Homo sapiens: one gene and its partners. The protein of the gene in region 7 interacts with the protein of the main gene of each other region in a pairwise test. Each region holds a gene or a part of one and is shown on either strand. Other genes may lie near its edges.

What was found.
Region 1: the proteins of A2M (region 7) and TRIM69 interact in binary tests that used the Homo sapiens proteins (3 or more experiments, as listed by UniProt).
Region 2: the proteins of A2M (region 7) and DDX20 interact in binary tests that used the Homo sapiens proteins (3 or more experiments, as listed by UniProt).
Region 3: the proteins of A2M (region 7) and STX19 interact in binary tests that used the Homo sapiens proteins (3 or more experiments, as listed by UniProt).
Region 4: the proteins of A2M (region 7) and CSF2 interact in binary tests that used the Homo sapiens proteins (3 or more experiments, as listed by UniProt).
Region 5: the proteins of A2M (region 7) and SYK interact in binary tests that used the Homo sapiens proteins (3 or more experiments, as listed by UniProt).
Region 6: the proteins of A2M (region 7) and UTP14A interact in binary tests that used the Homo sapiens proteins (3 or more experiments, as listed by UniProt).

The regions. Positions count from the first base shown.
Region 1 is NC_000015.10:44,757,028-44,760,527, reverse strand, and holds part of TRIM69 (E3 ubiquitin-protein ligase TRIM69), read right to left. Parts: intron 1,916-3,500; exon of another isoform or gene 1,908-1,915; coding exon 1,674-1,907; intron 889-1,673; coding exon 866-888; intron 781-865; coding exon 656-780; intron 1-655.
Region 2 is NC_000001.11:111,754,587-111,758,700, reverse strand, and holds the start of DDX20 (probable ATP-dependent RNA helicase DDX20), read right to left. Parts: upstream 2,801-4,114; 5' UTR 2,777-2,800; coding exon 2,476-2,776; intron 2,056-2,475; coding exon 1,961-2,055; intron 1-1,960.
Region 3 is NC_000003.12:94,016,232-94,018,597, reverse strand, and holds part of STX19 (syntaxin-19), read left to right. Parts: intron 1-99; exon of another isoform or gene 100-159; intron 160-2,366. UniProt on the Homo sapiens protein: Plays a role in endosomal trafficking of the epidermal growth factor receptor (EGFR).
Region 4 is NC_000005.10:132,072,576-132,076,588, reverse strand, and holds CSF2 (granulocyte-macrophage colony-stimulating factor precursor), read right to left. Parts: upstream 2,801-4,013; 5' UTR 2,766-2,800; coding exon 2,607-2,765; intron 2,509-2,606; coding exon 2,467-2,508; intron 1,780-2,466; coding exon 1,654-1,779; intron 845-1,653; coding exon 737-844; 3' UTR 419-736; downstream 1-418. UniProt on the Homo sapiens protein: Cytokine that stimulates the growth and differentiation of hematopoietic precursor cells from various lineages, including granulocytes, macrophages, eosinophils and erythrocytes.
Region 5 is NC_000009.12:90,878,319-90,881,818, reverse strand, and holds part of SYK (tyrosine-protein kinase SYK), read right to left. Parts: intron 3,056-3,500; coding exon 2,866-3,055; intron 1-2,865. UniProt on the Homo sapiens protein: Non-receptor tyrosine kinase which mediates signal transduction downstream of a variety of transmembrane receptors including classical immunoreceptors like the B-cell receptor (BCR).
Region 6 is NC_000023.11:129,909,164-129,912,663, reverse strand, and holds part of UTP14A (U3 small nucleolar RNA-associated protein 14 homolog A), read right to left. Parts: intron 1,657-3,500; coding exon 1,514-1,656; intron 899-1,513; coding exon 743-898; intron 86-742; exon of another isoform or gene 1-85. UniProt on the Homo sapiens protein: May be required for ribosome biogenesis.
Region 7 is NC_000012.12:9,105,920-9,109,419, forward strand, and holds part of A2M (alpha-2-macroglobulin isoform a precursor), read right to left. Parts: intron 3,487-3,500; coding exon 3,402-3,486; intron 1,726-3,401; coding exon 1,605-1,725; intron 687-1,604; coding exon 572-686; intron 427-571; coding exon 317-426; intron 1-316. UniProt on the Homo sapiens protein: Is able to inhibit all four classes of proteinases by a unique 'trapping' mechanism. This protein has a peptide stretch, called the 'bait region' which contains specific cleavage sites for different proteinases.

The DNA of each region.
Region 1 (3,500 bases), on a different chromosome or scaffold from region 7:
ATAAACAATAATAATAATGATGAGTCTATGAATTCTATAAAAACTCTATTTAGAATTTTATTTCTATAAAGATTTTTATTTAGAACTTTATTTGATGTTCTTGAAATGCCATGTGTGTTATTTTATCTTGCTCAGTCCTTTGGTATCTACAGGAACACAAAAACTTAGTGTCCTTCTTAGGTATGTTTATTTAAATTATTGGTTTTCTTCTGAAGCACTGAAGATCTAAACAATCTTCTAAAATGTTCTACGCTATGAACATCAAGCACAAAAGAAACTGTAAAGACCCAGTGTACATAAAAAGAGTATGTTCAGAAACCTCCTCCTTCTTCAGAGAAGCCCCTGGGATTCATATAGCTGATTTAGCAAAACAAGATAAAATTTTGGCTGTTGCCACATTTCATAAATCAGTCAAAATCATATGCTAAGAAGTAATCCTGATATCAAACTCATATCTATTTACCAGCACAAAGTCATAAATTCTTAGGTCATGGTACTAGAAGAAATTCAGTCATACCAACTAGCCTCCTTTTGGCCAAACTGTACCCCTTCCCTATCCCAGACTGTAAAAACTTAATTAGGGCCACAGAAGAAGTCCCACAGATTAAACGTAGATTAGGAGCCTCAAGAACCAATAGTTACTACCCACTGATACCTGGGCAGAGAGTGTCCTGCATTTCCCTCCATACCATGTACTGGATAGGACCTTTGTACTGGCCCAGGTTCAGCTTTCTGGAAATAAGCTCTCTGGTTGCCAGCACCTTCATTCCTTGCTCCAAGCTGCAGGGCACATAAATCATTTATCCTTAGACATCCTCCAGAGACTCAAGGAATGATATTAATAGTACCATAGGGAAACACTTACCTATGTAAGAGAGTTGTGATGTCCTAGAAGAAAGGAGAAAGAGAGACATCAGATGCCCGTTCATCAACTCTCAAAATTTCTTTGGTGATACCAGCCACCACCAGAATTTGTGCAGATGGTCCCGAACTCATCTCTACCAACTTCTTTCATCCTTCATACACTTTTTCTAATCTTCATCCCTGATCCTAACCCAGGTTAAATTGATCTTTTGCTCTTTCTAGAGTTCTCTTCTACAGGGAGCAAGACAGAAGCCAATAAGACAATACTTAAGGTTAAGCTATCTTTACCTATACTTTCAAATAGTCTCAGAAGAAAAACACATTAGGTATCCCAGTCCCAAGGCCACTTTTCCTTACTCTAGCTAATTAAACTTCTGAGTGCTGAGATGGTAACCAACGCTTCTTTAGAGGTGAAGCTTAAGAAAGCAAAGGTTAGAAAACAGCTTTTCAGACAGGTCAGCTTATGATTGCTGAGAGCCAAAGATACAACTCAGGCTGCAACATTTTTATTTTTGAGAAATAAAGCATCAAGCTCTTTATGGAAAAATATTAAACCATTACTATATACTATTATTAATGGAATTTAAAAATCGTATTTCCTAAGAGGATGAAAGTAAAGCTTTCTGCTGTGCGTATAGCTGAAGCAGCCTCCTCCTTTTCTTCCAGAGAATCTTAAAAGCACTATAACAGTTTTGTTTTGTTTTGTTTTGTTTTCCCTGGATGTGAAAAGCCACTTCCGCATTCTTTCCAAACCTCTTCCCCCCTCTAGGTAGGAAGGTACCCATAATCATATTGGTGTGGATTCTCACTTTGAGAAAGTCGAAGGAGTTCTGTTGTTCCGTCTTTGCCTGAATGCTCACCAACATATCCTTGGCTAAGAGACATTGCTCCTGAAGCTGGCTCAGATTCAACTCCATCTCCTCATTCAAGGCTTTCCCCTCTTCCCGGAGCTCAGTTAAAATGTCCTTTTCTTTGCTGTGCAGGAACTGATGCAGCTTTAGAAACTCCATGGACACATGTTGCTGCAGATGTAGCTTGTTTTCCTGGAAACCTCCATGATTATCACCATGGTTATTGCAGAGACTAGTGCTTGGGGATGGGGGCCCACACCACCAACACTCACACACTTGGTAAATACCATCACAGAAAAATGCATACAAATGGCTACTGAATATCAAATTCAGTCATACTAAAATGAGTCCTTTGGGAGACTTACTCCTTTTCCAACTAATTTAATAGTTCAGGATGAAATAGGCAAAAGTGACCTCCAGTTTCCTATTGCAGTACTGAGATGGTAACCAATGCCATATTAAATAAGACTGTGGAGTTAGTCAAACATTCTAGAATGAAAGATAATACCCTCCTAGATTGGTAATCCAAAAGCTGCCAAGTGGTACTGTTAGACTGGGGGTATTGGGAGGCTGGAAGAACTGTCCTTACCTAGAAATCAGAACTGGGGGAATGCCACTGTTACACTTGCAGCTTTTTCCTTGGGTTACCTCAACATCCTCACAGTTAAACTATTTGACATCCTGGCTTCTCAGTTCCTCATTCTCCTCATTTCTAGTGATTTCCACATTTATTGATTCATTCCTATAGTCTCACCTAGGATTTTATCACCCCCAGCAATTGTATCATCTCCAAAATAACTTTTTATGCACCAGGCTCACTCAGATACTCCTATTGCAACAATTATTGGATCTCATTGAAACCTCCTATTCACCGATCCCTCCATTTCTATTCAGGAACTTCTACCTTCATGTCCTCTCTTATCTAGCTTGGATCCCATGGTCCATAATTATTATTGCACCTTAAGATAGTCTTGGCTGGGCACAGTGGCTCATACCTGTAATTCCAACACTTATAGAGGCCAAGCTGGGAGGATTGCTTGGAACAGGAGTTCAAGACTGGGCAACATAGTGAGACCCAGTCTCTCCAAAAATAAAATAATTAGCCATGTGTGGCAAACTAGTCCCAGATACTCAGGAGGCTGAGGTGGGAAGATCTCTTGAGCCCAAGAGTATGAGGTTACAGTGAGCCCATATCCACCTCATCAATATCATCTTGCTTAGCATGTTCCAGCTTTATTGGCCTTTTCTCTGTTTAACATAGCAGCTAACTTTCCATCTCAGGACTTTTCCAGATACTCTTTTCTATTCCTAGAACATTCTTCTCCAGGCTACCTCCTTCATATCCCCACTCACCCAGTTCACTTGGATAAGTTACTTATCCTTCAATTCTCAATTTTTAATGTGACTTCTTCAGAGAACACCCCTCCCCCAGTCTAGATTATGTTCTCCATTTATATGCTATCATCATACCCTATACTTTCAGTTATAGTACTTATCACAGTTGTTATTTTATTATTACTCATGGGATTATTTAATTAACAGCTGTCTCCCATCCCCAATATCTAGTATTATGCCTGACCCACTCAATAAATATTTGTTAAATGAATGAATGAATGCTCACACTAATAGGAACTTTTACAAAAGGAACAAGATTTTCTGAAGACATCATTACTTCCATATATCCTTCTTCTTTCCCTGAGTCTGCATATTTTTTTCTTCCAGATGCCAAATACCTGAGAAGGCTCTTCTCCATAGAATAATGAATAAAGAAACAGAACTTCCAAT
Region 2 (4,114 bases), on a different chromosome or scaffold from region 7:
ACCTCCTCAAAGGAGGTACTTTGAGCAGAGACCTACGTGAATGGCATAGAGTAGAGCTGGCTATATGACCCCTGGGGAAGCGTTTTCACCAAGAGGAAACAGCAAATGGAAAGGCCATAAGATGGCAGTGTTCTTGGTGTATTTGAGGAAGAAAAAGAAGGCCCACATGACAGAATTCAGGGGAAAGTAAAGGAGGTCAGAGATCTACCTCCAGGGACTAGATCACAAAAGACCTTGAGAGTCATGGTAAAAACTTTGCAATGTAACTACTGGAGGAGGAGAAAACAAAACTTTGTGCTCTTAACTACAAGAAAAAAAAATTGATTTAAAAAAAAAAAAAAAAAAAGGACTAGGAGAAAACATGCCAAAACTGTTAATAGCAGTTTCTCTCTAGGTAGTAAGATTACAGATTTTGTTTTCTGGTACGTCCTAATTTTTCTGAATTTTCCCTATTTCTAAAAATGAATATGTATTACTTTGATACACACACAGAGAATAATGTAATTTTCATAATCCAAAGATCTGAAATTAAAAATATGAATTTGCCGGGCATGGTGGCTCACACTTGTGATCCCAGCATGTTGGGAGGCTGAGGCAGGTGGATTACCTGAGGTCAGGAGTTTGAGACCAGCCTGGCCGACATGGCGAAACACCGTCTCTACTAAAAATACAAAAAAATTAGCCGGGCGTGTGGTGTGCACACTTGTAATCCCAGCTACTCGGGAGGCTGAGGCAGGAGAATCACTTGAACCTGGGAGGCAGAGGTTGCAGTGAGCCAAGATTGTGCCACTGACTCCAGCCTGGGCAACAGAGTGAGACTCGGTCTCAAAAAAAAATGAGTTGATGAAACTTTTCCAGGATTTCAGCATTTTATCTGCTGCCAAATTGTCAGAAGCCAAAATCTCAAATACATCTTAGTCTACAATTAGACTAACTCAGGTTCTTGGGAAGTAGGAGGATTTCCAATGTGCAACATCACCTAGGATTTGGTAGACATAAGATGGACTCAAAAAGCTTCCCAGGTGATGAACATGGATATCTGGGTTAAAAACCACTGTTGAAGATTCATCATCAGATATACCAATGCCTGAGAACTTGAAATACAGTCTGCCATAACAACTAAACTACCAAGTAAGGCTATGAGAATCACATCTAATTCATCTTTGAATCCCCAATGCCTGGCACACTGTTTATACGTAATACGGACTCAACAAACCTTTGTTGGAGAAATGATCCCCAAACTCAAATTTCCTGCTAATTTGGGTAAGGCAATCTTAGAAACACTCTAAGACAACCTGGAAGATGGGAGATCAATATGATACATTTACAGAGCTTTAAGAACCACCTGCATACCGGCTGTGGTGGCTCATGCCTGTAATCCCAGTACTTTGGGAGGCAAAGGTGGGAGGATTGCTTGAACCCAGGAGTTCAAGGCTGGTCTGTGCAACACTGGAGACCCCATCTCTACAAAAAATACAAGAACTAGCCAGGTGTGGTGGCACACACCTGTAGTCCCAAATACTTAGGAAGATGGGTGGGAGGATCACTGGAGCCCAGAAGTTCAAGGTTGCAGTGAGCAATGATCCGCCACTGCACTCCAGCCTAGGTGACAAAGCGACACCGTCTCAAAAAAAAAAAACAAACTCTGCAGTTACCAACAATAGCCAGAGCACTACATTACCATGAATCAAGTCAAATGTTAAGTCTCACATTAATCTAGTCAGTAAGTAAAAGAAGAATCCCTGTCTGTATTACCAAGTAGTGACAAAATTGACATATATGGTAGCTTTATTCTATTTAAATAAGGTACGCATAGAAAATTCCAAATTTCGCCACCACCACCACTTAACTCAATCATTCATCAAATTCACTTCCAGCTCTGAGGAGCTACTGGTATTTCATCTGACCTGTGGTAAAGTCCACAAAACACATCCTCCTCTGGTCCTCTCAGCTAACTCACCTGGGTACTTAAGTTTTCAAGAACAAGAGAGTCCAAAGCTATGGTGGAGAACACACAGGTTTTCCCGGTGCCAGATTTAGCTTGAACAATTAAATCTGCGAAGGAAAAAAACAATTATCACTAGCCAGTACTCACTGAAGCAACTTAGGGGCTAACATGGAATCAGAGAACTAGAAGGGTCTCCTGAGATTCCCCTAGTTGGCACCTTCATTTTTAGTTGATTCTCAAAAACGTATGAGAACACGCCTAGTCCCTGAACGTTTACCGTTTATCTTCTCAAACTTAGAACCATTTGTCAGTGCTTAAAAAAAGGTCTTAACTATCCTCAAGTTCAATAGTGCACGTTAGTTTTACAAATAAGTTAACTGAGCGTAGCGCCTAGCCCCCGGCAGGGCCCTGCTCCGGGGGCCGACCGAGGGCTCTTCCTGAGCTGCGGCGCGGGCCTGGCCGCCGCCGCCCGTCGGTCCCCCTTCTCCCACCCCACCCCCCGACCTATCCCGGGCCCCCGCTCTCACCGAGCCCGCAGCGCCCCAACGGGATGGCCTTGAGCTGCACCGGCGAGGGCCTCTCGAAGCCGGCCGCCCGCAGCCCCTCCAGCACCGGCCGCGAAAGCAGCAGTGACTCGAAGTCGGCCGGCTCCGCCAACAGCACATCCCCCGTGCGGGTCCGCGGGCTGCTGAGATCCTGAGCGGTCCGCAGGATCCTCACAGGCCCGGGTGTTGGCTCTGGGGCCGGGACCTGCACGGCCACATGCTCAGCCGGCATAGCAGTCGCCACTGCTGCTAAGGCTCCCGAGGCTTCAAATGCCGCCGCCATGGTAGCCGCGCCGTCAGATCTCGCGGTGCTTAAGGGGAGGCGGGGATCTTGGGAGCGAGAAGAAGAAAAACTTTATTGGCAGTTTTCCCGCGAAGACACTAACACGCCCGGCCTGGAAGTGGAAGAAAGGGACGGGAGTCGGAGGCTGAGAGACTGCCCAGACACACAAAAAATGTGGCCTGAGGAAAGCCCCAAGAGGGAGGAGAGGAAAGATGAGGCAACTGGTGAGTCGCTGCCTGTGGCCTGCAGAGGGCGCCGCGGGCCTGCGGTGGGGGCACCGCCCCGCCTCTCGGCCCTCTTCTGGGCGGAGCCGCCCAGCCGTGCCCCCGGCGCCACCGCCCTCTCGCCGTTCTTTGTGATGCGCCCGGTGCGTCACGCCCCCGTCTCGTGCTTCCGTTTTCCGTTCCGCTGGCCTGTCTCGCTTCGCGGCCACCTCTTCCCCAACGCTACCCGCTCCGTACCCTGACTCGCTGCTCCTCTGTGCTGGCAGAGAGCGCGCAGAACGTAGCTGGACCCAAGGGTTTATTTACCACATTGGCTGGTGTGTCCATCTGCTGTGCAACCACATTTATCTCCGGTGAGATAAACCCCATTTATCTCCTAGCAAGTCCCTGGCGCACAGTGAGCTCTGATAAAAGTACGTTGAATTGGAACCTGGAACTGGACTAACAGCTCCCAAGTTCGTATCTCCGCCTCAGATCTCCTTTTAAACTCTAGACGTGTGCATCCATCTGCCTCCATGCATCCGCCTCCATGCATCCGCCTCCGCATCCGCCTCCATGCATCCGCCTCCGCAGCACCTCCCTTGGGATGCCTAATAGACTCTCAAATGTTACATGCCTTCTGTATTGCTCCTTCCCCCATCATTTCATGCGTAGGCAGCTAGCAGTCTCTGCCACTTTTCCTTGCTGTGGTCTTCTGCTCAAATATCAGCTTTTCAAAGAGGTCTTGAACACCCTAAGACAGCTCTGTCATCCTCTCTGCTCCCTGGCCTTTCCCAGCACTCTCTTGTTTTGCTTTATTTTTTCTTTATGATACTTATACCTACCTGAAATTATATGTCTTCTGCCTGTCTCCCACACTCTATGAGGACAAGAACCTATTCTGTCTTGTTCTCCTCTGCATCCCTAGTGGGAAAAACAATCTGACACATAGGAAATGTTCAATATTTATCAAATGATTGAGCTCCTATAACAAACTCTTAGTCATCATGCCAAATTTAAATATTTCTGGACCTCAGCCATATTCATAATTCCAAATTTAGTTGTGTGGGGTGGCTCGCACCTGTGATTCCAGCTTCTTGGGAGGCTGAGGCGGGAGGATTGCTTGAGGCCAGGA
Region 3 (2,366 bases), on a different chromosome or scaffold from region 7:
TTTGGGTCATCAGCTTACAAACAGCATTTAATGCCATGAGACTAAAAAATGATGATGGATAAAAATGAGACTCAGTCTAAAATCTTCCAATATTTACAGGTGGGGGAGATAAGGAGTAGCCAGGAAAAAGAAAATAGTGATAAAGGAAGAGCCAAAAAGGTAAGAGAAAAAAAACAGGAGAAATACTTTTCTTCAAAGTGTCTCAAGAAATGATTGTGTTAAGTGCTGATGGGTTAAAATCATCAAGTCCTATTGCTTCTAGTTTCAAAAATATATCCTGATGGTTCCCATTTACTCCATCTCTATCATTAAAGTCTCTTCTGTGAACTACTCCCACCCCCTCCCCAGGAAACTATTCTCTATATAGAAAGCAACAACATCTTTTAAAAATATAAATCAGGGCCAGGCATGGTGGCTTATGCCTGTAATCTTAGCACTCTGGGAGGACAAGGCGAACAGATGGCTTGAGCCCAGGAGTTCAAGACCGGCCTGGACAACATAGGGACACCCCTGTATCAGTTTAAAATTTTTTTAAATTACATATCAAAATGAAAAAATATATACAAATCATGTCAATATCCTATTTATCTTTTAACTGTCTTCTACTGCACCTAGAATAAAATCTAAACTCCTTCCTTTGGCCCACAAGTCCTTTATGATGTGGTCCATGCCTACCTTTCTACTTCATTCTTCCCATGTTACTCCTCTCATTCCTTTCTATCTACATTCACTTTGTTCTTATGCAATAACTCTGTTCCTAAAACATATCAGTCTCATTCACTGCCTTGGCAACCCAACTCCTAGACCTACAATACACTCCCTCGGCTCTTCATCTGCCTGGCTTCTCAACATTCAGTCTCACATCTCAAATATCTGCTTAGAGACCCTGCCTGATTATTGTATCAAAACCTAAAATTATCCCGTTTATCTTTTAAATTGTATATTGTCCTTCTCACCCTAAATTATAAATTCCTCAAGGACAGAAAATGTTAAATATATATTACAGCATTTAAAACTTATATACATATAAGACTTCAATGACTATTTCACAAAATACCAGTCCTTTAAAACCAAAGGAATATTACCAGGACATTGGTTTAACCTTTTACCCAAAACAGGCATCATTTCTGTAACATGCCTGCCTGGAGTCATCATTCCAGAACATCTTGAAAATGTCCAGTGATGGCAAACTCAGCACCTCATGAAGCAGCTCATTTCATCTTGGGAAAGCAATATTTGTTTGAAAAGTCTTCTTTATATTGAATCAAACCTCTTTCCATGTAATTTCCACCCACTGCCCTTTGGAGTTATGCCAAGTAAGTCTAATCTCACTTGCATACACAGACCTTTGTTTAGAAGACAGCTGTATACACACCCTACATCTTCTCTTTTACAGGACAAATATTACCATTTATTTCAATGAGTCTCCATTTGGTATGGTTTTCCAATCTCATCCTTTCCATGCTAGTCTGGTAATTCCTAACTTAAGAACTTCCATCTCAAAATATGCTCAGAAGTTTATTGAGTTCCCCTTACCCTTGCAATTTGCTCTGAATAGCATAGAGTTGGCAGAGTTTAGTCTATCCATACATCAGACTATTATTTATAAAAGCATAGTGACTATTCTGATGGTTCTGACAGAAAGCTTAATTAGGCTGGGAGCGGTGGCTCACACCTGTAATCCCAGCACTTTGGGAGGCCAAGGTGGGCGGATCACGAGGTCAGGAGTTTGAGACCAGCCTGGCCAATATGGTGAAACCCTGTCTCTACCAAAAATACAAAAATTAGCCGGGCATGGTGGCAGGCACCTGTAATCCCAGCTACTCAGGAGGCTGAGGCAGGAGAATCACTTAAACCCGGGAGGCAGAAGTTGCAGTGAGCTGAGGTCGCACCACTGCATGCCAGCCGGGGCATCAGAGCAAGACTCCATCTCCAAAAAAAAAAAAAAGAAAGCTTAATTAATTAAAATCTCCAATACTTTCATAGACACTATTGTGAACCCAAGGGTCTTCTACTCTGTAGATACGAAAATATTTTTCTTATAGCTAGATGAAATATTTTAAATCTATTCCTGTTAAATATATTTTTGTTATTTTTAGTATAAAGTTCCACACTATTTTAATATTTGAATCCCTACCCTGTACTTCAACATACTAAAGATTCCTCCAAATTTTACACCATCTACACATTTGTTAAGTATGCCTCCTATGACAACATCCAGATTAATAGAAATATTTCCATAAACATATCAAACACTGAGTCCTACAGCATAACAGCATCACATTCAGAGACCTTTTTTTTCTGGTTGATATTAATATTATATGTGGTCCAATGAGCTATCTGTACTCCCTAACAGCCTCTTCTTA
Region 4 (4,013 bases), on a different chromosome or scaffold from region 7:
AGGGCGTGGGGCACAGGGGCCAAGGCCTCTACAGGGCAGGTGTTTTGCCTGATGCCAGAGTGGGCCTGTTCAGCCAGTGACCAGCCAACCCCCAGGCCTCCCCAGGAAGGGTGGTGCCCTTCTCTGGGATAAGAGTTCCCTGGGCTGGTCACTTGGACTTCCAGGTGAACTTGAGAGCCATTCTCTGGGGTGGGAGCCCTGGAGCATCCCGGGAAGCCCGTCCAGGTGTGCAGAATTCCGCACCTATGCCCGGCTCTCACCTCCCCTCTGCTCTGACAGTGTTGGCCCTTGGATAGTGCCCAACGCCTGGGAGGCCCCCGCCCCCTCTCCACCTCCCCGTTTCCTCCCTCCCCTGCCTCATGGGAAGGCAGGCACCACTGGCATTTGCTCATGGTTAAAAACAAACTAGAACACTGGACAAGTAGAAGCATATTTTTAATAATAATTATTACGGTAAAACATCTTGAATAAATATGGAATATGAACTTAAATAAATAAATAAATAAATATTTTAAAAATATAAATATATAAATATTACTGATTTCTGTCAGTATAAAATATTCCCATTCTTCTGCCATGCCTGTATCAGGGTCAGTGTGGCCCAGGGCAGGTCCAGGCCACTCCCACCATGGCTGTGGCCCACCCCTTGGTCCCTCCAAGATGACCATCCTGAGTTTCTAGCTCTTGTTTCATGAGAGAGCAGCTCCCCGGCTTGGCCAGCCTCATCTGGCCGGTCTCACTCCTGGACTGGCTCCCAGCAGTCAAAGGGGATGACAAGCAGAAAGTCCTTCAGGTTCTCTTTGAAACTTTCAAAGGTGATAATCTGGGTTGCACAGGAAGTTTCCTTTAAAAAAAGAAAAATAAAAAACACTTGAGTCCAGGCAAGTGGGTAACGTGGGGGAAGGAAGCACCAGCATGTTTCTCTACTGCCTCTTAGAACTCAGAGGCCAGGAGGCCCACTCCAGGACACACCCACTGACCTGGGTCAGGTGACGCTGCTGCCACCCACGTGTTCCCCAAGGAGTGCATAGCTCTGCCAGTGGCAGCCAGAGTCAAGGGCCTGACTTAAGTGCCAGCCTGAGGTTGGCCTTCTGGGCAGTCAAACGCCTGCCTTTTTGGTCCCAGGGCAGAGCAGGGCAGCTGGGCTGAGGTCGTCTCTGGGCACCCAGAAGGAGTGGAGTCAAGGCCACAAACTTTGCTCCCTTCCCGCAGGAAGGAGTGCCTGAGGTCCTTGTCCATTCCAAGTAGCCTCCCTTCCTTGATCCTCTGCAATTCAAGCACCCCATGTGGGGCCAGAGGAAAGTCCTGCCAGAAGGTGGCACTTGGGCCTGGGCACTTCCTCTGGGCCTTGGGCAGGCCCCAAGTTTCCTTGGGTTTGCCCTCACCTCTGACCTCATTAACCATAATGACAATAATGACCAGGATAGGAGCAGCTCCTGCTGGGGAGCACTGTGGGCTTCAGCGCTCTGTGGCTCTGACTCCTTGGGATGAAATGGGCTGTCTGCCTCCTCTCTGGAGGGCTAATCATTACATAACTGTTGGCACAGAAACCCCCTGGGGTCCTGAACAGCCACAGCCATAGATCTCTCCCCATGTCGACCCCACCCCCTAGATTAAGACATTCCTGCTGGAGGCCCTGCCGTAGGCACTCACCGGGGTTGGAGGGCAGTGCTGCTTGTAGTGGCTGGCCATCATGGTCAAGGGGCCCTTGAGCTTGGTGAGGCTGCCCCGCAGGCCCTGCTTGTACAGCTCCAGGCGGGTCTGTAGGCAGGTCGGCTCCTGTGGAAAATGTCGTTCGTCGGTGAGCAGTGGCCAAGTGCCCACAGTGGTACAAGAACTCTCCACCACTCCTTTTTGCTGCTGCCCCCAGCCCCCAGGAGTAGGGCTTGGGAGGGGCACAGGCTGGGTCCAGTCATAGACCCTGCCCTGTCCATGGCAGGCACGAACCTGCCCTTCTCACTGCCCCGCCCAGGCCACCCTCAGCGGCACCTGGAGAGGAGCCCAGCCTTAGGGAAGGAGGTGACTCTCACCCCATCATTCAGGGAGAGGGGGGTGGGGCCTCACCTGGACCTGCTGGGTGGGCAAGGGTTGTTCCTGAAACCCCTCTGTGCCTCTCTGTAGTCAGCACTGTCTCAACAGGACTTGGTCTCGGGGCACAGTGAGCGCCCCAAACCCACAGCTCCTGTCTCATGAAGTGACCCCCACTTTACCACCTGTCCCCTGGTGACTCCTGGCCATTGAATGCTAGGTCTGCCCATGGCCGCTCAGCTGATAAAGGAGCTCATGTGACTGCCATAGGGGCACGGCCAGCAGCCTCTTGAGCACCCAGTTGCTACCCCCTCCTCCTGCAGCCAGCTGACTGGAGAGAAAGTGGACAACCCTGTGTGGTGCCATCTAAAATGGAGTCCCCACCTCCACCCCAGGGCAGGGGCTTCTGGAAAGCTATGTCAGAGAGAAGCATCTTACCTGGAGGTCAAACATTTCTGAGATGACTTCTACTGTTTCATTCTGTAGAAAAGGAAAATGTCATGTTATCAAGCTGACAGGCGTGGCCAGTCAGGGGCCAGCTGGGTGGCCTAGGCACAGGCCCACATTCTCTCACTTACCATCTCAGCAGCAGTGTCTCTACTCAGGTTCAGGAGACGCCGGGCCTCCTGGATGGCATTCACATGCTCCCAGGGCTGCGTGCTGGGGCTGGGCGAGCGGGCGGGTGCAGAGATGCTGCAGGCCACAGTGCCCAAGAGCAGCAGGCTCTGCAGCCACATCCTCCAGAGAACTTTAGCCTTTCTCTCTGTGTACTGGGCTCACTGGCAAAAGAGCTCTTAAATACACAGAGGAAATGATTAATGGTGACCACAAAATGCCAGGGAGGCGGGGGAACTACCTGAACTGTGGAATCTCCTGGCCCTTATCAGCCACACATGGGAACGGTGAGCCTTTTCCCTAGGTGGTCAGGCTTGGGGGTTTTCATTAATGAACCTTTCCAAGAACCGACAGCCCACCCACCCGCCTTCCTGAGGGCTCTCCAGCCCTCCCTGGGCAGTCTGAATGGGCCTGAGGCTGCCCCCTCCCTCTGAGGGGCACAGTTTGGACTTCCTGGCCTGGAATGGCTGGGGTGGGGCGTGGGAGACACTTAGATAGGGCTCCCCATCCTGCCTGTAATCCCAGGGGCCTTTGGGCAGGCTATGCCCGCCCTGGTGCCTCATTCTGACTCCAGCCTTCCTCTTCTCTGGCCACTGTGAGAGACTTGAGTGTGAGGGGAGCTCTCACAGACCTGCCCCACTGACAGTTCACATGGGCTCCCACCCAGGACCTGGAGCAGGGGGCAACCTCAGTCCAGTAAGGGGGGACCCCTGCCCCTGTGAGCAGAGGGAATGACCACCATGTGCACATCCAGCAGCGAGACTGCAGCCACTCTCAGCAAGCTTCAGAGGGGGTGTGGCTGGGTCAAGTCGGGACCCAGAGTCTGACTCTTGGCTCTGGAGCCACCTTCCTGAGTGACTCCCCTCTCTGGTTATGTGAACCTTGATTCCCTCTGCAGAGCAGGTTTGCCCCTCTGAGGTTCGGACTACACTCCTATATGTAGCCCCCAGAAGACACCAGGAGCTTCAGGCTGGCTCCAGGGCTGTGGCTGCATCCATCTCAGGTACAGGGACAATGGCTTCCCCAGCAAGGCCCTCCAGGCTTAATTTCCTACATAACCCCAGCATCCCCCAACTCCAGAGGCCTTTCTGTGGAAGTGTGGAAGTAGGAAATCTAAAGGCTCTTGAGGGGCTGACAAGTGTTTGATTTTCACAATGGAGTTCAGAGAAGACAGCACGAGTTTGTGTTTGCACAAGGTATCTGGCTCAAGCTGCCCCATGCCTGGGTTTCATAGCTAAAGGGGTGTGGGCCCACACGTGCCCATTTCTGGGTGTATGTGTGCTGCTGTGATTGGTTGTACATACAGGTGCCTGGTAGAGGGGAGGATGTTTTCCATGCAGATGCATCTATTGAGTCCTCTTACCTGCTTT
Region 5 (3,500 bases), on a different chromosome or scaffold from region 7:
AGAACACCTGTGTTTTTCAGTTGTGATGCTGCACAAATCTACCCTGTCACGCATGGTTTCCCGAGTGCCAGCGTTCGTTTGCTTCCACAGCTAGCACTTTTCTTTGATCTTGTTTCACTTTTTATTCCTTTTTTTTTTTGAGACAGAGTCTTGCTCTGTTGGCCAGGCTAGAGTGCAGTGGCACGATCTCAGCTCACTGCAACCTCCACCTCCCGGGCTCAAGCAATTCTCCTGCCTCAGCCACCAGAGTAGCTGGGATTACAGGTGCCTGCCACCATGCCTGGCTAATTTTTGTGTTTTTAGTAGAGACGGGATTTCACCATGTTGGCCAGGCTGGTCTCGAACTCCTGACCTCAGGTAATCCACCCACCTCAGCCTCCCAAAGTGCTGGGATTACAGGCGTGAGCCACCACGCCCGGCCCACTTTTTATTCTTTTCCATTTCACTTTGCTTTGTTTTCATACAGAAATCTTCCACTACCCTATCTTTTCGGTAGTTTTGTCTCTTTTTGCTGCTTCCAAGATGGCTTTTATTTCCCTAGTGGCTTTTTTTCTTCATTGATTGTCCAAAGACAATCTTTGGTTTACTTTTTAGTTTAGTTTACTTTTTAATGGTATGCTGTTTAATATCTACAGCAGTTTTAGAATTGGCCCCATGTTCTTTGACTCTTTGACACTTCTCCTCAAAAGGGTGGTTCTATCTATCCCATCCTTTGAAGCTGGTGGCCTTGGCTGCTCTGACCAATAGGATCAGGTGGAAGTGACCCTGAGGTAGTTTCTGGGCCTGGTTTTATAGGCCTGGCAGCCCCCACTTCCTGCCTCTTGGGTAACTGCTCTCAGCCCGCAGCTGCCATGCTGCCCAAGGGAAGCATGGGCCCAAGGGAAGCCCAAGGGCCCCAAGGAGAGGCCATGTGCAGGTGAGCTGGCTGACAGCCCCGCAGAGGTCTCCAGCATGGGCTGTGTCTAACCAGCTGCTCAGTGGCTGAGTAGTGTGAGTGAGCAGAGTGGAAACGGTCCTCCTGTCCCTCGGGCCACTGTGCAATCCCCTGTGTGAGCAGACGCACTGAACCCTGCCTACCTGGCCCTGCCCACACAGCAGGACGGCAGGGAAACCAACACCTGGTGGTGTTTTTGGCAGTAAGTTTGGGGTGATTTGTTATACAGCAGTGGATAAGGTGCCCAGCATTCATGTTTCATTTTCTCTATCTCCTCTGTGTCCTTGTTTCAGACAGGCTGTCTTCTTTTCTGTAATGATCATGATGAGGTACATCCAGCATTACAACAGGCTTCTTTCTCCAGCATGTCCCATGCTGGTCATCCTAGGCTGCTGTCTTCCTTGCTCTGTTTCCCTGCTATTTCTATCCAGGCCCATGCTGATGCCTTTCTCACAGTGGTTCACCTCTGAAGGGGCTTCCTTCTGGGAAGCTACTGTATGAAGAATGGGGTGAGGAGGGCCAGCCTGACCCCTGCTGTACTCTCGCCTGGCCTTTGTGCTCAAGATGGTGGAGTCTGCCTGCCTGCCTGGGAGCTTGGCTCTTGTGGCTTACCCTTCATGCAGTCCCTTTGCTGGCCGAGGTCCACCATTCCCCATCACCTACCAGTCCATGGACTGCCTCTTAGGGAAAGGTGAGTGGGTGGGTATTGTCACTCAGGGTGGGGTCTCTGACCACTGCAGGGCATGAAACACAGGATCCTATCTGCCACCCACTAGGTAGATTTTGAAGGTCTGCCATCTATTTCTGAGCATGTGGACTTCACCAGAGACTAGCAGGGTTGTTAACCTGCCTTCGGCACCCTCTTTGACTCAGTGGGATTGGTGCCATCACGTTTTCCAGTTGGTTAACATAGACCCTAGGTATACACCACAGATGAGTTAATATGAAGATAGAGCTTTCTTATCTTTTCTTCTTTTAGTTGTTATTGGTTCATTTGAGGGTTCAGAGAGGGGTCAAGTTATATTAGCAAGGGGATTGGTCACTGTGAAATTATTTTTTAGGAAGTCCAAACCTGCACCCAGAACTAGTTTCTACTTTATGTTTTGCTGGAAGTCCACCCTTAATTCTTGATAATCTCTGCCTCACCAAACCAAGGGGCATATTTCTTTTAGCTTCAGTCACATAACTATCTAGATCTCTTCTTTCCAGCACTGCATCTATTTTTTGACACTTCAACTCTTCTGGATACCAGTTAAGCCAATAGAACAATTTCTACATATGTAGTGGACATACACAGATGACGAGTTTATTTGGTAAATCTTCACTTTCTAACTTTTGCATGTATAGGTAGGTGTTCATTAGAAAGTTATTTTGGAATAGCTCCAAGCTGCAATATTGGAGCTCTGAACTGCAGTACTGGAGCTCCAAGCTCCAATAGCTCCATGCTGTGGGACAGTGTTCCACCACATGTTATGAAATGTCCTATCAGAAAAGGATGCCATGGATGAATCTGGTTTGAGAAATGCAGTGCAGTAAACCCTCTACTGAGATTCGTAATGTTAAGTAGCATGAAAAGGGCTTCGGGGAAATCCTGCAAGAATCAAGCTGTCCAATGCAAACTTTTCAAATTAACTTAATGAAGGAATCCCATTCTTCTTTTTTCAAAACAAATCTTCACTTAATACCTCGATTCCTGATCATTCCATGAAACATAATTTAGAATATACTACTTTGAGTAAATCTCAAGGTGTGATATTATTTTTATTTTTTAAACAGTAAAATCAAAGATTATAAGAACATATCTTACATAGTTATTTTTCAGTAGCAAAACTGCTTTTTGAAACCATACCAATAATAAAATAAAGAAAACGTACATTTATCTTGCATTTTTTACCACCTGCTGCTCTGAATATTAGCTAAGTTGTACTTACCTTGTAGTAGTTTTCATCAGCACGCAGTGCTTTGGAAAGTCCGAAATCACTGATCTTGGCGTAATGTTGGGTAACTAGCAACACATTTCTTGCAGCCAGATCTCTGTGCACAAAATTGCTCTCCTCCAAGTACTTCATGCCCATGGAAACCTGATGAACCAGTTCTATGATGTTCTTATCCTTGACATGTCTGAAAGTCATAATGATCTCATCAGCTATAACAGACAGTGACCCATTTCACAACAAACAACCATGCTCCTCACGCAGGCAGTGGGTGAATCTACTCCTTCCCTCTTCTTAAACAACAAAACTCACGAGTGGTGACAAATAACTTTGTTAGCATATAGCTCTTCAGGACTCAATGCCATATTCTCCTGGTGTTCAATGGGATTGAGTTTCCTGGCATGCTTGGAATTGCAAGAAAAGCAGTATAACAGAGTAGTCAGGCCTGGCTCACAGATAGCCAGGCACCACCTCAAATCCTTGTTCCAGTATCACACAGGTCACAGAACTAACCCTGAGAATCAGTTTCTCACCTACAAAGTCAGGGTAAGAACACCTCCCTTCCATGGAGACTAAAGAGACAATCTAAGTACAAACGTAGCACAGCAAATGAGGCAAGCTCCTCGGTGGCC
Region 6 (3,500 bases), on a different chromosome or scaffold from region 7:
GTATTCCTGTACAAGCAAAGTTTGGCTTCTGTTGTTCACATATCCTCACTAAGGCATCATTAATGTTATCGAGTTCCTGATTTCCCTAGGATCAGAATGTGGCTTTAAATGCTTTTTAAAAACTGGGGTAAAAGAAAGAAAACATTATTATGTTCCTGCTATACGGGCAATCACATGGTTTAACACAAAAACATGGAAATAGCAAGTACTGTATACTACAAGCAGATGAAAAGTGACACAGAGACCGGGCGCATTGGCTCATGCCCGTAATCACAAAACTTTTGGGAGACTGAGGTGGGCGGATCATTTGAGGTCAGGAGTTTGAGATCAGCCTGGCCAACATGGTGAAACCCCATCTCTACTAAAAATCCAAAAAAAAAAAAATTAGCTGGGCGTGTTGGTGCACGCCAGTAATCCCAGCTACTTGGGAGGCTGAGGCAGGAGAATTGCTTGAACCCAGGAGGCAGAGGTTGCAGTGAGCTGAGATCGTGCCACTGCACTCCAGCCTGGGCGACAGAGCAAGACCCTGTCTCAAGAAAAAAAAAAAAAAAGTGATCACAGAGCTATTGTGACTGGCTATCACATGACTGACAATGACGATGGGCAACCCCTTCTTTCTGAGCACTAAGCTAAAATGACTTATGCTGGGGTTTAGCTTAACATGTCCAATCAAATCAATTGCAGGCTCTGAAATCTCCAACTTATAAAATCTCACCTTTCAGTTTCATTTTGTTGTACTCACCTTCCAGCCACTGAGCACATGTTCAATGGGAGCAATGGCTGGCTCCTCTTTCTCCAGGGGAAAAACCAGCTGCTCTGCCTGCCGGTTCTTCAGGACGACAGGGTCCCATTTGGAGAGGACTTGTGCGGTTTTATTGAATGCTACTTCTCTGTGGATCTGAAGCAGGCAAGGCATGTAAACGGAAAGAGCCACAAGATTAAAGCATCAAACCCAAAGGACTAACAAGAAATTAGGAAGCAACATTTCTTAGCCCAAGAAAGAATCAGGATGCTAGAATCAGGATGAAAGAATCAGGATGCTAGTCCTCTTGCTTCTCAGGACTGCAATTTCTCCTAGATTATTATTATTATTTAGATGGAGTTTCACTCGTGTTGCCCAGGCTGGAGAGCAATGGTGCAATCTCAGCTCACTGCAACCTCCACGTCCTGGTTCAAGGGATTCTCCTGCCTCAGCCTCCCAAGTAGCTGGGATTACACCACACCCGGCTAATTTTGTATTTTTAGTAGAGACGGGGTTTCACCATGTTGGACAGGCTGGTCTCGAACTCCTGACCTCAGGTGATCCGCCTACCTCAGCCTCCCAAAGTGCTGGGATTACAGACGTGAGCCACCGCGCCTGGCACTCCTAGATTATTTTTAATCTTATCCATAGTGGGGAAATCACAACTCCCCCTTCTCCCATTTTTCAGGTCTTTCCCTTCTTTCTATTACCCTATTTTCCCTTGTCAATTCAATTTCTTTCCCTTAATAGACCACCTTCTCTGTAGCTTACCCGTTCAATCTCTTCTTTGTTCAGAGGTAACTCCACTGTCTTCTTTGATTTGACTCTACTCAGTTGCTTTTTCACAGTGGCCAAAGAAGATGAAGTTTTAACAGGCTCAAGCAGATCTGCAAGGACCAGCTTTTCTCCTGATCCTGTGGAAAGGTCAAACTTTCTGGTCAGACCAAGAAGTGAGACAAGATCTCAATATAATGTAGGGAGAAGCCTCAGTAGAAAATGCCAGTAGATGGCAAATGTGCAGAGAAGCAAGAATAATTCTCTTACTTCAATTGCCTATTTCTAGCCATGCCAACACTATCACTCTTCTACATTCATCCCCAAACGTGTTAGGGGGTAGAAGATAGGGGAAAATATTTATTCAAAACTCATTTGCTTTTCTCCTGGTGCTTCTACTCTTGCCCCATTGCAATTCATTCTTCACATAACAGCCAAAAATAAAAACAGCCAAAGTGATCTTTTTGCTGTTGTTGTTGTTTGTTTTGAGACAGGGTCTCACTCTGTCACTTAGGCTGGAGAGCAGTGGTGCCATCTCTGCCTCCCAGGCTCAGGCAATCCTCCCAAGTAGCTGGCACTATAGGCGCGTGCCACCACGCGTGGTTAATTTTTTTAATTTTTTTTTTGTAGAGATGGGGTTTTGCCATGTTGCCCAGGCCAGCCTCAAATGGCTGGGCTGAAGCAGTCCGCCCACCTCGGCCTCCCAAAGTGCTGGAGATTACAGGTGTAAACCACTGTATCCAGCCCAAAATTATCTTTCGAAAATATAAACCACAGCATGTCATGACCCTGCTGAAAATCCTCCAGTGACTCCCCATTATACTTTGAATCTCATCTACCTAAAGGACATGGTCCTATGAGATCTAATCCCCATCTGCCTCTCTAACCTCATATCAACCCCCACCCTCTAGAATGCTTTTGTCACAGGGGCCTCTTTCCTATTCTTCAACATGTTGTGCATGTTTCTACCTTAGAGCCTTTGTGCTAGCTGTTCCTTGGCCTGAAATGCTTTCCCCAATCTTTGCATGGTTGACTTGACTTGTCATTCAGATCTCGGCTTCAATTTTGCCTCTTCAGGGGCCTTTCATGACCAACCGATCTAAAGTAGCCACTTAGTTGCTTTACTGCATCATCCTCTCTTATTGTCTCCCTTCATTAGAATGTAAACCCCATGAGCTCACATCTTATTCGCTACTTTAACCTTGGTATCTACAACAGTTCCTGATACTGCTACCTAGTAGAAACACAATAAATATCCACTGAATAAGTACGCTTGGAATACATTGTTATTTGCCCTAGGAGGCTACACCAGTGATTACTACAAATGCAAGACCCATTCTAGCTGCCTAAGTTGTGAACAGGGTGAAAAAGATTTGGCATCTAGACTCAGTATTAGGATAAAATCCCATGGCTGCCGCTTATTAGAGCATGTATTCTGAACAGGGGCAATTTTACCACCCCGCCACCCCAGGGTGAAAATTGGTTCTTTCTGGGAGAGTATGAAAAAAATCTTAGATATTACAATGTTTTGTGTCCCTCCAAGGCTCAACTCTGTCCAACAAACTCTTATTCCTTAGGACTTGATTTCCTGGGGAAGGGGCACAGGGGGAGGGATACAATGAGGAAAAAAATGTCTTGAGGCCGCGCACGGTGGCTCACGCCTGTAATCCCAGCACTTTGAGAGGCTGCGGCGGGTGGATCACGAGGTCAGGAGATCCAGACCATCCTGGCTAACACGGTGAAACCCCGTCTCTACTAAAAATACAAAAAACTAGCCAGGCGCGGTGGCGGGCACCTGTAGTCCCAGATACTCGGGAGGCTGAGGAAGGAGAATGGCGTGAACCTGGGAGGCGGAGTTTGCAGTGAGCCAAGATCGCACCACTGCACTCCAGCCTGGGCGATAGAGTGAGACTCTGTCTCAAAAAAAAAAAAAAAAAAAAAGGCTTGAAAGGCTCCTCTCAGGGGAGCAATAAAAAAGCAAAGG
Region 7 (3,500 bases):
ACTGCCTGGTAAACCATGAGAAGGAGATTGAGTGACTTGTACAATGCTGTTTCAAAAGAAGGGGGGAAAACTCTACTAATTTTAATAAGGCCTTAGGATAATTACATACATTTCATACACAAATTTACAGAAGAATAAATCTATTTTTATGTAGTTTTATACCTTTGGTTATACTAATCAAGCCTTGGTGATATTTTATACTTTTGGTTATATTAAATGATAACATTAACCAGGCATGGTTTTAGCACAAACCATAACTATTGTGCTAATTAGGTAACAGTACATGGGTTGATGAGTGAACTGGAAAATACTCCACCTGCCCAAAGAAGGGAATTCCCTGTCGAAAGTGTGAGTCCACTTTCACAAATGAGAGTTTGGTTATGGTTCTTGTGATTTCACTGGACTGCCTTCCAGTCAATTCCACCACTGAAAAAAGAGAAAAAAATCTGTTATTTTTGGGAAGAATGATGTCTCTAAAATTCTATCACCTCCCCCCAACTTACAATTCATTATTTGGCTAAGAAAATCAATGCCTGTTGTGTTTTCTCTTATACCCATGTAGTACACAAACCTGTTCCTTCTTCTTGGATCTGGGCCTCAGTGTGAAGTTTCATTTCATACTCCTTCCTCTTCAGCTGGAAGACCTTGGTTTTTACTTGCTGATAGAAGCAGCCATGGCTGTTTAGCTAAGAAGGGAGAAAATAAAATACAAAAATATAATGCATATTATACTAAATAGATCAGTGGTCAGATAACCGGTGTGATTTTTGTGGGGGGACAACATCATGTAGGCATTTTCTATGACGAGGACACAATAAATATTCTCTAGCAACTAAATATTAAATTTCACAACAATATCTCATGTATAATTGACAGATGTATTCCTTGGTATCTGAAATTCCCTAGATATATTGCGATAGAAATGTCTTAAAATTTGAGGAGTAATTTTTTTTGTACAAAGGATGCATAATATTTATACATATTTATGGGGTACACGAGATATTTTGTTACATGCAGAGAATGTGTAATGATCACATCGCGGGATTTAGGGTGCCTACCAACTCAAGTATGTATCATTTCTATGTGTTGGAAATAGTTCAAGTCCTGTCCACTTGCTATTTTGAAATACACAGTACATCTGCTCTTGACCATTAGAACTCCTCATCAAAGTCTGGTTCCTCCTCCATAATATTCAGCTGTGGCTGGGAAGCGGCCTTCTATATGGGGACTGTGTTTGTCAACTCTCTGGCATCTTGGTGGGGCCATGTGATAGGTTCTTGTTCACAGAGAGAGCAGAACTGATGGCCTGGCCAGCTAAGGCAATTAAGAGGTGTATGGTTTTTTCCTTCCTTTGTAGAAGTGAATGCCCATGGAGGCTTTAGATGGCTCAGTGTCTATCGTTCTGAAACACTCACAATGGGCAATTACGAGAAATAAATAATTCCCATTGTGCTAAGTTCATGATTTTTTTTGAAAAATTACAATAGCCAACATGGAATTCTCTTCTAGATTGTTCTCTTCCTGCGTCAGAAAAATGCTGCAACTCACTGCTTTTCAACAATGCCTTTATCGCTATTCTCTAGAAAAAATAGTGTTCAACCTACCTGTCCACTGAATTTCTCACAGAAAGCCTGTGAATCTTCACCGTGGCAGTCGGAAGCGTCACTATACTTTCTGCAAATGCTCACAGTCACATGTCCAGGGACAGGCTTCCCATATGTGTATCTGTCATGAGAACATTCCCAAAGGAATCAGAGCAGACACTGAACCTCCCCATTTTCTAGCTATTTATATCTCCCCTTTAGCTACAGTATATTCCCTGTCTGTACTTCCCTCTGCTCTCTGCTGGGCTCACACAATATTGAAGACAAGAGTCACTAATGGCTCTTATAGAAATCTCCATTGCAACATGCTGAAATTTACATTCTTCTTTTATCATTTCTTTTTTTTCCTCGTTTTTTTTTAGTTTTATCTTAAAAAAGTCTTTCTTATTATAAAACTTAAACCCGTTCTTAAAAGAGAAACAATACCAGCAAGACGAAACAAACAAAACAAAACAGAACAAAAAAAACCCAAACGCCCTCAAGTCTACCTAGGAATACAAACTATTAGTACGATAGTGTCTCTTCTTCCATCATCCTCTCCCCATGTGCAGCCATCTCTATATCGAGTTTCACTTGTTTATTTTATTTTATTTTATTTTATTTTATTTTATTTTATTTTTGAGATGGAGTCTCGCTCTGTCGCCCAGGCTGGAGTGCAGTGGTGCGATCTTGGCTCACTGCAACCTCCACCTCCTGGGTTCATGCCATTCTCCTGCCTCAGCTTCCCAAGTAGCTGGGACTACAGGCGCTGGCCACCATGCCTGGCTAATTTTTTGTATTTTTTAGTAGAGACGGGGTTTCACCATGTTAGCCAGGATGGTCTTGATCTCCTGACCTCGTGATCTGCCCACCTCAGCCTCCCAAAGTGCTGGGATTACAGGCGTGAGCCACCACGCCGGGCCTGTTTACTTTTTTACAAAAGTGGGATTGTGTCGTAAATATGTCATAGACAATTGCTGGGTTTCCAAGTGCATTTGTCTCCTTTCCTATTTGAGAATGTCCTCTGTATGTCTATTTGCAAGATCACACCAGTTATGAGGAACCAGGAACTTGGCCATCACTGTGAGACAGAACTGGAGCAGGGGCCTAGCTGAATAGTAGGTGTATTACATGTGTGATCTTTGGACAGGACTATACCTGCTCTTCCTGCTACTGCTACTGTGTGCCACCATGGATGGGAACATAAGATCCAGGAAACAAGACTTTTCAAGGTTGGAACAGACTGTCTTGAGAAATCACGTTCAGTCTCTTCGTAAAAATGTCAGTGCAGACAGGTATGTAGACCCGCCTTAGGTGGACTAGTGAGTTAGATGAGATTTCAGTTGTATGCCTATCTCTACAAATTCTGAATCTAAGTGATTTTTCCAGTAAGCATGCAAGGTCAGGTAAATGATCTGTTGATGATTGAATTTCCCCTATAGCCATGTGTTAATTATCTCCCTAATATACGTTTGGTTATTTTTGGTTAAGGCAGAACCAATACCCTTCAACACTATCCACCCTTCCCATTTTGTGTGTGTGTGTGTGTGCAGTTTTGTCACTTTCAGAATCAATCCTATTAGCATAACCTCTCTAGAAACAGTTTCTTACCTCATGATAGAATAATACTGATAAGAACGTGAAAGAAAATAAAAATAGAAAAGCAACAGGAGAATAACATTCTACAGATGAGGATGCTGTCAAAGCACTTAAAATTTTTGTGTTGCCACTGCTCCCGGAGAGAGTAGTTAAAATATCCCAAATGGTGAGTCTCTTTTAAATAATCCCCCACAAAAGATTTTTAAAAAATGAACTCACAGGCCACACACTGATACATTCATCTCTTCTTCCAAGATGGTGATTATCTTTGGCACTGTTACTTGTACTTCAAACTTGGGAAGAACTGTTGATTGGTGA